Regions from separate parts of the Homo sapiens genome. Here region 2 is linked to region 1. Evidence: fine-mapped expression QTL. A gene starts in region 1. The other region holds a variant in brackets. All regions are shown on one strand. Distances are from middle to middle. Region 1 holds the start of TAS2R4 (taste 2 receptor member 4). Region 2 overlaps WEE2 (WEE2 oocyte meiosis inhibiting kinase).

Region 1 (4,395 bases):
CATGTTTAGTGCTTCCTTTAGGAGCTCTTTTAGCGCAGGCCTGGTGGTGACAAAATCTCTCAGCAATTGCTTGTCTGTAAAGGATTTTATTTCTCCTTCACCTATGAAGCTTAGTTTGGCTGGATATGAAATTCTGGGTTGAAAATTCTTTTCTTTAAGAATGTTGAATATTGGCCCCCACTCTCTTCTGGCTTGTAGAGTTTCTGCCGAGAGATCAGCTGTTAGTCTGATGGGCTTCCATTTGTGGGTAACCTGACCTTTCTCTCTGGCTGCCCTTAACATTTTTTCCTTCATTTCAACTTTGGTGAATCTGACAATTATGTGTCTTGGAGTTGCTCTTCTCGAGGAGTATCTTTGTGGCGTTCTCTGTATTTCCTGAATGTGAATGTTGGCCTGCCTTGCTAGATTGGGGAAGTTCTCCTGGAGAATATCCTGCAGAGTGTTTTCCAACTTGGTTCCATTCTCCCTGTCACTTTCAGGTACACCAATCAGACATAGATTTGGTCTTTTCACATAGTCCCATATTTCTTGGAGGCTTTGTTTGTTTCTTTTTATTCTTTTTTCTCTAAACTTCTCTTCTCGCTTCATTTCATTCATTTGATCTTCCATCACTGATACCCTTTCTTCCAGTTGATCGAATCGGCTACTGAGGCTTGTGCATTTGTCACGTAGTTCTTGTGCCTTGGTTTTCAGCTCCATCAGGTCCTTTAAGGACTTCTCTGCATTGGTTATTCTAGTTAGCCATTCGTCTAATTTTTGTTCAAGGTTTTTAACTTCTTTGCCATGGGTTCGAACTTCCTCCTTTAGCTCGGAGTAGTTTGATCATCTGAAGGCTTCTTCTCTCAACTCGTCAAAGTCATTCTCCGTCCAGCTTTGTTCCATTGCTGGTGAGGTGCTGCATTCCTTTGGAGGAGGAGAGGCACTCTGAGTTTTAGAGTTTCCAGTTTTTCTGCTCTGTTTCTTCACCATCTTTGTGGTTTTATCTACCTTTGGTCTTTGATGATGGTGACGTACAGATGGGGTTTTGGTGTGGATGTCCTTTCTGTTTGTCAGTTTTCCTTCTAACAGTCAGGACCCTCAGCTACAGGTCTGTTGGAGTTTGCTGGAGGTCCACTCCAGACCCTGTTTGCCTGGATATCAGCATCAGAGGCTGCTGAACAGTGGATATTGGTGAACAGCAAATGTTGCTGCCTGATCATTCCTCTGGAAGTTTTGTCTCAGAGGAGTACCCAGCCGTGTGAGGTGTCAGTCTGCCCCTACTGGGGGGTGCCTCCTAATTAGGCTACTCAGGGGTCAGGGACCCACTTGAAGAGGCAGTCTGTCCGTTCTCAGATCTCCAGCTGCATGCTGGGAGAACCACTACTCTCTTCAAAGCTGTCAGACAGGGACATTTAAGTCTGCAGAGGTTTCTGCTGCCTTTTGTTTGGCTATGCCCTGCCCCTAGAGGTGGAGTCTACAGAGGCAGGCAGGCCTCCTTGAGCTGCAGTGGGCTCCACCCAGTTCTAGCTTCCCAGCCACTTTGTTTACCTACCCAAGCCTCGGCAATGGTGGGTGACCCTCCCCCAGCCTCACTGCTGCCTTGCAGTTTGATCTCAGACTGCTGTGCTAGCAATGAGTGAGGCTCTGTGGGCAAAGGACCCTCCGAGCCAGGCGCGGGATATAATCTCCTGGTGTGCCGTTTGCTAAGACTGTTGGAAAAGCACAGTATTGGAGTGGGAGTGACCTGATATTCCAGGTGCCGTCTGTCACCCCTTTCTTTGACTAGGAAAGGGGATCCCCTGACCCCTTGCACTTCCCGGGTGAGGCGATGCCTCGCCCTGCTTCGGCTCACATTCGGTGCGCTGCACCCACTGTCCTGCACCCACTGTCTGACACTCCCCAGTGAGATGAACCTGGTACCTCAGTTGGAAATGCAGAAATCACCCGTCTTCTGCGTCACTCATGCTGGGAGCTGTAGACTGGAGCTGTTCCTATTCGGCCATGTTGGCTCCACCTGAAAAAATTTCAAACTTCTAAATTCCTGTTTCTTCATGACTGACCTCATTCTTCAGAGCCATCATCAAATAAGTTAAGTGCCATTCATTTGCTTTGACTATTTGCCCTAAAGCCTTTCTTACAGACCTGTCAAGAAGCAGAGTTTGGATCCATGACTGCAGTGCCTGCTGGTTGGTCTTCTTGGGCTCTAGTAAATAATCAAACTTATAAGACTATCTTAGGCTACTGTGGTACCAGCCTACTCAGATGGATATAGTTGAGGGACCCGATTTACCAGCAGGGCAGTGTCAGGCCTTCCTCTTTTGCAGAGTTTTTGGTGCAGGCCATACAGTTCAGGTACAGTAATAAGAGACCCACAGTAGGGTAAGGGTGGGAGCTGCTGCAAATTAAAAGCTTCGTGTCCCAAAAGATCCAATTTATTTTGTGGTAATTTTGTAGACAAAGCTTCTAGGGTTGAGTCAAGGTACAGGTACATGGGAAGGAAGCCCAATGCATGTAGACTCCATAAGATACTTATTACAGTTCACTTATAGTTCCTTCCAGTCAAGATGCAATTTTCCAATCAAGAGTCTTTTTTTTTTTTGTTCTAGAAACATAGTTGATGTTCTTACCCTTATCATATAAGGATAAGATTATCCTTATCATCCTTATCATCATGATAAGGAAAACAGCTAGGAAGTTTAACCATAGGTCAAATTCTCATGCATAGGGAGAAAGGGTTCTGCTAACACTTTTCCTATACTGACCCTTGTGGAAATAACTTCTAACTGAATGAGCTCATTCATTGATTGTGCTAGCCAACCTTATCACATCTTAATTATAGCACTTCCTCCTACAGAGAACCCAACAATTTGGTATAGTACATTCTAGATAGAGTTTGTTACTATCTAATTCTGGGATTCCTGCTCTTTTGGCCACATTTATCTGTTATGGCTTACTCTATATCATTTATTCTATTTAAATGTGATGTTAGTAATATTTCAACTTCACCACTTTAATGCAGCCATCTATGGATAAGTAATTGGAAATCTGTGCTATAATTTTCCTTTTAGTCATAGTCTTCCTGGCTCATTCTGTTTGCCTGCTTACCTGATGTGGGCATGCCTCTATCAGTGCCTGTTAGTTTTGAATAAAAAGCTTCTGTAAGCACCTGGGCACCAGGTCAGAGAATTTCTCCAGGCTAGGCTTCCTGTCATCTGTCTTAAAGGGCCTCATGAATGTATTCCCCTCTTCTGGACCTGATTATTATTAAATCTTAGCTCCTTTTTCTTGTCTGTTTCTATTTGGACTTGGCAGTAGGACTTTGTGCTGTACCTTGATGCTACTTTGGTAACATCTGTGGCTGCATCCAGGATTGCACCTTGGTTTCATTCAGCTGCTAGAGAAGATAAGAGATGCCATACTCTTACATTCACCTATGGGCCTCCATAATATCATTTGCCAGGGATATTTTGCCATTTCCCATCTGAGCAAGTACAGAGAAATCCAGCAATGAGATGCCTAGCTGTTTGGCTCACAAAACTACAACTAATGCATTACTGTGTATCTCATTCCAGGGTACCTGGATTGACAGTTAAATGCCTAAGAGAAAATAGCCACATATGATCTAAACATAAACCCAGATTTATAAAGGAAACACCTACAAGGGCTGACTTAATTTTTTCTAAGGAAAACCAGAACATAGCAAATGGTTATGGCACAAATCTATGTATGTAGATAGAGAAGGCAAAGCAAAGGGCATCAGAAAGAATGGGATTAATTGAGAAAGGTTTTCTCAAGGAGGTATTGGGTCTTTGAACTTGATCTATTAGATCACTGTAAATCGCTATAGGTGAATCACTGAGGTTGAAAGAGTGGCATTGGCATGGCCAATTGGTGAAACTTGTTGTGGCAGCAACAGATTAGAGGGGAGAGAGAAATTGGATTCTGGTCATCCATGAATATGTGGCTAGGAGGTGGGTGGGTAGGAGTGAGGAATTAGGATTTCCACCATATTCTGGCATTTTTATGAAGAAAAACTTTACCGTAAAACATTGACAGAAACATTGCTGGACTCAAGCTCTCTGGTTTGGATTCTAAGTTTTTGGAGCCTGCTGTGACTCTTCCCTCTCGCCCTCCTGCTCTTGGAGGAGTGGACTCCCAGCATCACCTAGGCTTGCTGTAATTAGGCATTTCTAAGGAGAACAGGATACTAATGAAGAAATAGTAATGTAATCCTTGGAAGATTTGCATCTCAGTAAAATCAGGTGGCCCTTGATCATGAATGGCTCATTTGCCATGCTGGGAAAAATTAAAAAGGAGATGTCCTTCCTGGCTGGATACTGGTGTCTGCTTATACATTTTGGTATTTCTTCTGCCTCCACTATCAGCACCACAACTGCTGAATCCTCAATGAGTAAA
Region 2 (4,395 bases), 60 kb before region 1:
AGGGGTTGGAGCTTGACTAAAGTACAGATTCCTGTGTTGACTTCATGAATCAGAATATCTAGAGGTAGAGACTGGGATTCTATAGTTTTCATAAGAGGAGCAGTTACAATGCAACCAGTTCACATGGAACCAGATAATTTCTAAGGCCCCTTCAGCAAAAGCATTCTTAGATTCAAATATTAACTAGCTAACTGATAAGGAATGTCTTTACTAATGCTATTATGACTTGCCTTTTGTCATCCTCATTCAGACCATGCTGAGCCGGTTGGTGATTTCTCCAACAGGGAAGCTTCCTTCCAGAGGCCCTAAGCATTTGAAGCTCACACCTGCTCCCCTCAAGGATGAGATGACCTCATTGGCTCTGGTCAATATTAATCCCTTCACTCCAGAGTCCTATAAAAAATTATTTCTTCAATCTGGTGGCAAGAGGAAAATAAGAGGAGATCTGTAAGTGCTCTATTACTTATGACTTTTGAGAACTGACCCTACTACAGTCAAGTAGTAAGAAGTGAGTGTTAAAGTAAGATTAGGAACGAGAACTCTATTTGAATGAAATGTATATGCTTACATATTCTCCCCTTCCTAGATATCAATGCTGGTTTTACCTGCTTTATCACAGAGATTCCAACATCTTTCCATTCTGATATGTACTGTAGATGCTTTCTCTATAAAAGGATAAGACAGAATAAGCAATAGATCTCTGGCTTCTATTAGGAAGTTGAGTGGGCTATGGAATTGCATTCAAGGGGTCCCCTCTGGTTAATATGAGGCTGGCAGTTGGGGAACGTGTAGCTCAAACTTCAAAGAGTACGTTGCTGCTTTGAGTCTTGTGTGACTAGTGATGAAAGCTATAGAGCAAGGATTTGAACTTCTCTGTGGGTGATGGAAGATTGGCTGAAGCAAAAAAGCATTGCTTTCAGAGCTGCTAAAGAATAGAAAGCCAAACTGTACTATTCCATAAAGGGCCCTGAATGACAGAAATCATCCAAATAAGGATTGTGCATATTACTCAGGAACATTACTATGTCTCTCCAAGGCTTTTTTATAGAATGGAATCGCCTCCAAAGTGGGGCAGTCATTTATGTTCATATGTACTCAGCGAAATAAATGGACAGCTAACAATGTAAACTTTGCAGAGCATTTAATGTGCTATGTCAAGTTGTTTCTTTGGAGTCAATGAGTATGTGTTAATCAGTCTTTGACCAGAATAGGTTCTCTCAACACTATCTCCTTCTTACTTAAATAAACAGGACTTCAGCACAAGTCCACCCACCTACTTTGGCTACCAAGAATTCGATTGGTTTTAGTTCTTAAGGAGTCTCTGTAAATCATTATACTCTCACCGAAGCCAGCAACAAAGACAGCTAATATGAAATCCTGACACTTTTGTAGCGTCATTTGGTGCTTCTAAGAGAGTATTTTTCCTTATTTTTATAATTTATAAACACTTCATAAAGTATTACAATGTGGTACTAAATCACAAATACCAAGCATTGATTTATTTCCATGAATGTAGTGCCTTCCATTTGCCATTTCTACCTTGTGTTTCTCCAAAAGAAAAATCTATAGCTAGTTGAAATCTTGCTTAAGGATCCAGAATACAAGTATGCATGGCAAAGAGGATGTCTGCTGGTCACTTAGCTTATCGAAGAGTAATTGAAAATATCTCATCCCGGGTTAGAGCAGATTCTGCCCTACTTGCAGTCTACCTGTGAACCGATTACAAAGCCAGATTCTAGGGGAGGGGTGGGTGTCGGAAAGAGAGTGTGGTGTGGCAGTGAGGAGCAAATGCTTTGGTGTCAGACCTGGCTCCAAGTCCCAGTTCTGCCACTTGCTAATTGTTTGACCTAGAGTTATTTAACCTCTCTCTGTCTTGGTTTCCTAGTTTGGGGATAAAGATACCCATTTAACAGTTGCACATATGTTCTGTGCTCTCTTGCTCCAGCACATGGTGTTTTACCTGCTGAAAACCTCACTCTTTTCCCTTAGCTAGTTCCTACTCGTTCCCAGAATCTTGGCTTATATATTCTCTCTTCTGGGAAAGCTTTTCACTCTTGAAATAATTGAGTGCTGTCCATGGTATCCTTGTTATCTTATCCAGTTCTAGGTTCTTGTATTGAAATTTCCTGGTTATCCCTGCCTCCACATATAAACCGAAGAGAA[A/T]TGAATTGTCTTATTTACTCTTACATCCCTAGAACCTAGCATAGTTCGGCCTCAATAAATATTAATTATATATTGATAAACTTTTTTTTTCTTTTTTAAGTGAGGAAGCTGGTCCAGAGGAAGGCAAGGGAGGGCTGCCTGCCAAGGTAAGCGTAGTTCTTTGTCCCAGCGGCCACAATATAGGCAGTTTATCCTATTCTTTCTCTTCTTCCCCTCCCCTTCTCCCTCTCTCTCCTCCCTCCTCCCTTCTTCCCTACCCTCCCTTTTCTCCTTCCTCACCCTCCCCTCCTCTCCTTCACCCTGCACCCTCCCTCCCCTTCTTCTACCCTCTCCTTCTGCCCTTCTCCTTCTGCCCTCTCTTCCCCATCTCCCCTCCTCCCCTCCTTTCTCCTACTCTCCTTCTCTCCTCCCCTCCCCATCTCACCCCATCTCACACGCTAGCTTTGTAAATGTGCTTTGCAGCTGAATTTATCTGGACCCTAGTCAGGGTCTGTGTTCTCAGCTAGTTGTAACTCTGCCAGGCAGTGTCTGATATGTATATGCTGGATCATTACTTTAGAGTAATTTTAAAATTACATATTTCTGCTACTATTTTAATCTGGAGAAAAACTCTACACTCATGGGGTAGAGAAGTGAAGGGAAAATTAAGATATTTTTGGTCTCAAAATAGAAAAAGATAATGGAAAAAAGGGGCATAGAGCCAGAGATTTATATGTAAAATTTTAGCTCTTAAATGTATCAATATTTGATTTTATAATGTTCACAATCTTTGATCCATCCCTCATTTGATAATCTAACCTAAGAAAATAATACTGCAAACATTATCCTTAGAGATGTTTATTGTAACAGCAAAAAAGGGGGGAGACCAAATGCCTGATAATAGAAAAATGGCTAAGCTAATTACAGTTTTAAGTCAGTGAAATACTAAATTGCCATTAAGATGTTTATAACACCTTGAAAACATGCGTATGTTAATGTTTAGTGTGCAAAAGACTCAAAATTTTATACGCTGAATGACCATAACTATCTATTGCACATTAATCACAGGGAGAATGAAATGGAGCTATAACCACTGCTATTTCAACATTTTTGAATGGTGGAAACTTCATATTTGTTTTTCCTTTAAATTTTTAAAGTTTTCTGAAGCAAGTTTTATTTGCGTAAATAAATATGTTAATATGTTAAAATGTTAGCACTTGGCTATTGTAAACATCACAGAAAAGGCGGCCACTGGCACAGGTGTTCCTTCAAATGCAAATGTTTCTGACTTATGCCTCCATTATTTTACTGTTGGATTTTATTCCTCACTTATTTTATAATTTATCTCTTGATTTCAGATAGAAATTCTAATATTTATTGAACATTAAATAAGTGCAAAGCATTGTATTTAGTTACACCCTTTAAGGAAAAACATCTGGCCAAACAGGAGTTAAAACCTTTGAAATTTCAAAACAATCTATATGTAAATTAGAAGCTATGAGATATATGTATTTGTGTATATGTGTATGTACATATGTGCAATGTGAATATACATATGCGTGTATATCTTTAAAATCTAGAAGTGGTTAGTAAATACTTCTATGAAATAGAGCTTGGGTAGGAAGAGATTGTATATTAAGATAATTTTAGGCTAAGGAAGTAAATAACTTTTAATGCTATCAAGGCAGGAGAACAGAGTTCAGGTGTAAGAGGGGTATGGTGGGTGGGGAGTGGTCAGGGATAGATGCAGATGGTATACTGGCTTCATTGGTATCTAGGGGGAGGGTAGTCAAGTAGTGAGTGCGCAGTTGGTAGAAGGTCTTGAGGCTTTCTTATCAAGAGTTTGAATTTCTCATGGGAAACAATTAGGCATCTCTGATTCTGTGGTATCATTTTGCAAAAATAATTCTTACTATTAGAAGAGTTAAAGAGAGGGCTGGTAGCTGTAGCCAATCCAGACAAGAAGGGAACAGAGCTTGAGACTGGCTAAGGGTAATGAAAATTAAGAGATCTTGCTGATGAAAGTGACCAGAATTAGATGTTGAAAATGAGGAAGTAGTAAAACCCAAGATTTTTCAAACTCATAAAGTTGGAGAAAAATTCTTCAGGATTGGGACACTGAGAAAAGATGACTTTGGGAGATAAATCAGCTTGGATTTAGATTCATATAAATTTATGGAGATTTTTGGTCATAATAGTTTAATGAGAATTTACTATGTACTTGACACTATCCTAAGATATATTACAATATAT

What was found. PIP is the estimated chance that this variant, and not a neighbour inherited with it, causes the effect.
Region 2: its variant is the best candidate, but not a certain one, in a credible set for the expression of TAS2R4 in tibial nerve (GTEx, PIP 0.51).

The regions. Positions count from the first base shown.
Region 1 is chr7:141,774,093-141,778,487 of GRCh38, forward strand. It overlaps TAS2R4 (taste 2 receptor member 4), which reads left to right and starts at 2,582. Exons shown (of 1, transcript NM_016944.2): 1 at 2,582-4,395.
Region 2 is chr7:141,713,959-141,718,353 of GRCh38, forward strand. WEE2 (WEE2 oocyte meiosis inhibiting kinase) reads left to right here. Exons shown (of 12, transcript NM_001105558.1): 2 at 251-447; 3 at 2,264-2,309. The region is part of intron 3 of WEE2-AS1 (WEE2 antisense RNA 1); the gene reads right to left. Among named protein-coding and RNA genes, the nearest start is that of WEE2, 7.8 kb to the left of the region's middle. RefSeq lists a silencer at 1,157-1,357. The variant A/T (reference allele first, on the strand shown) is at 2,164.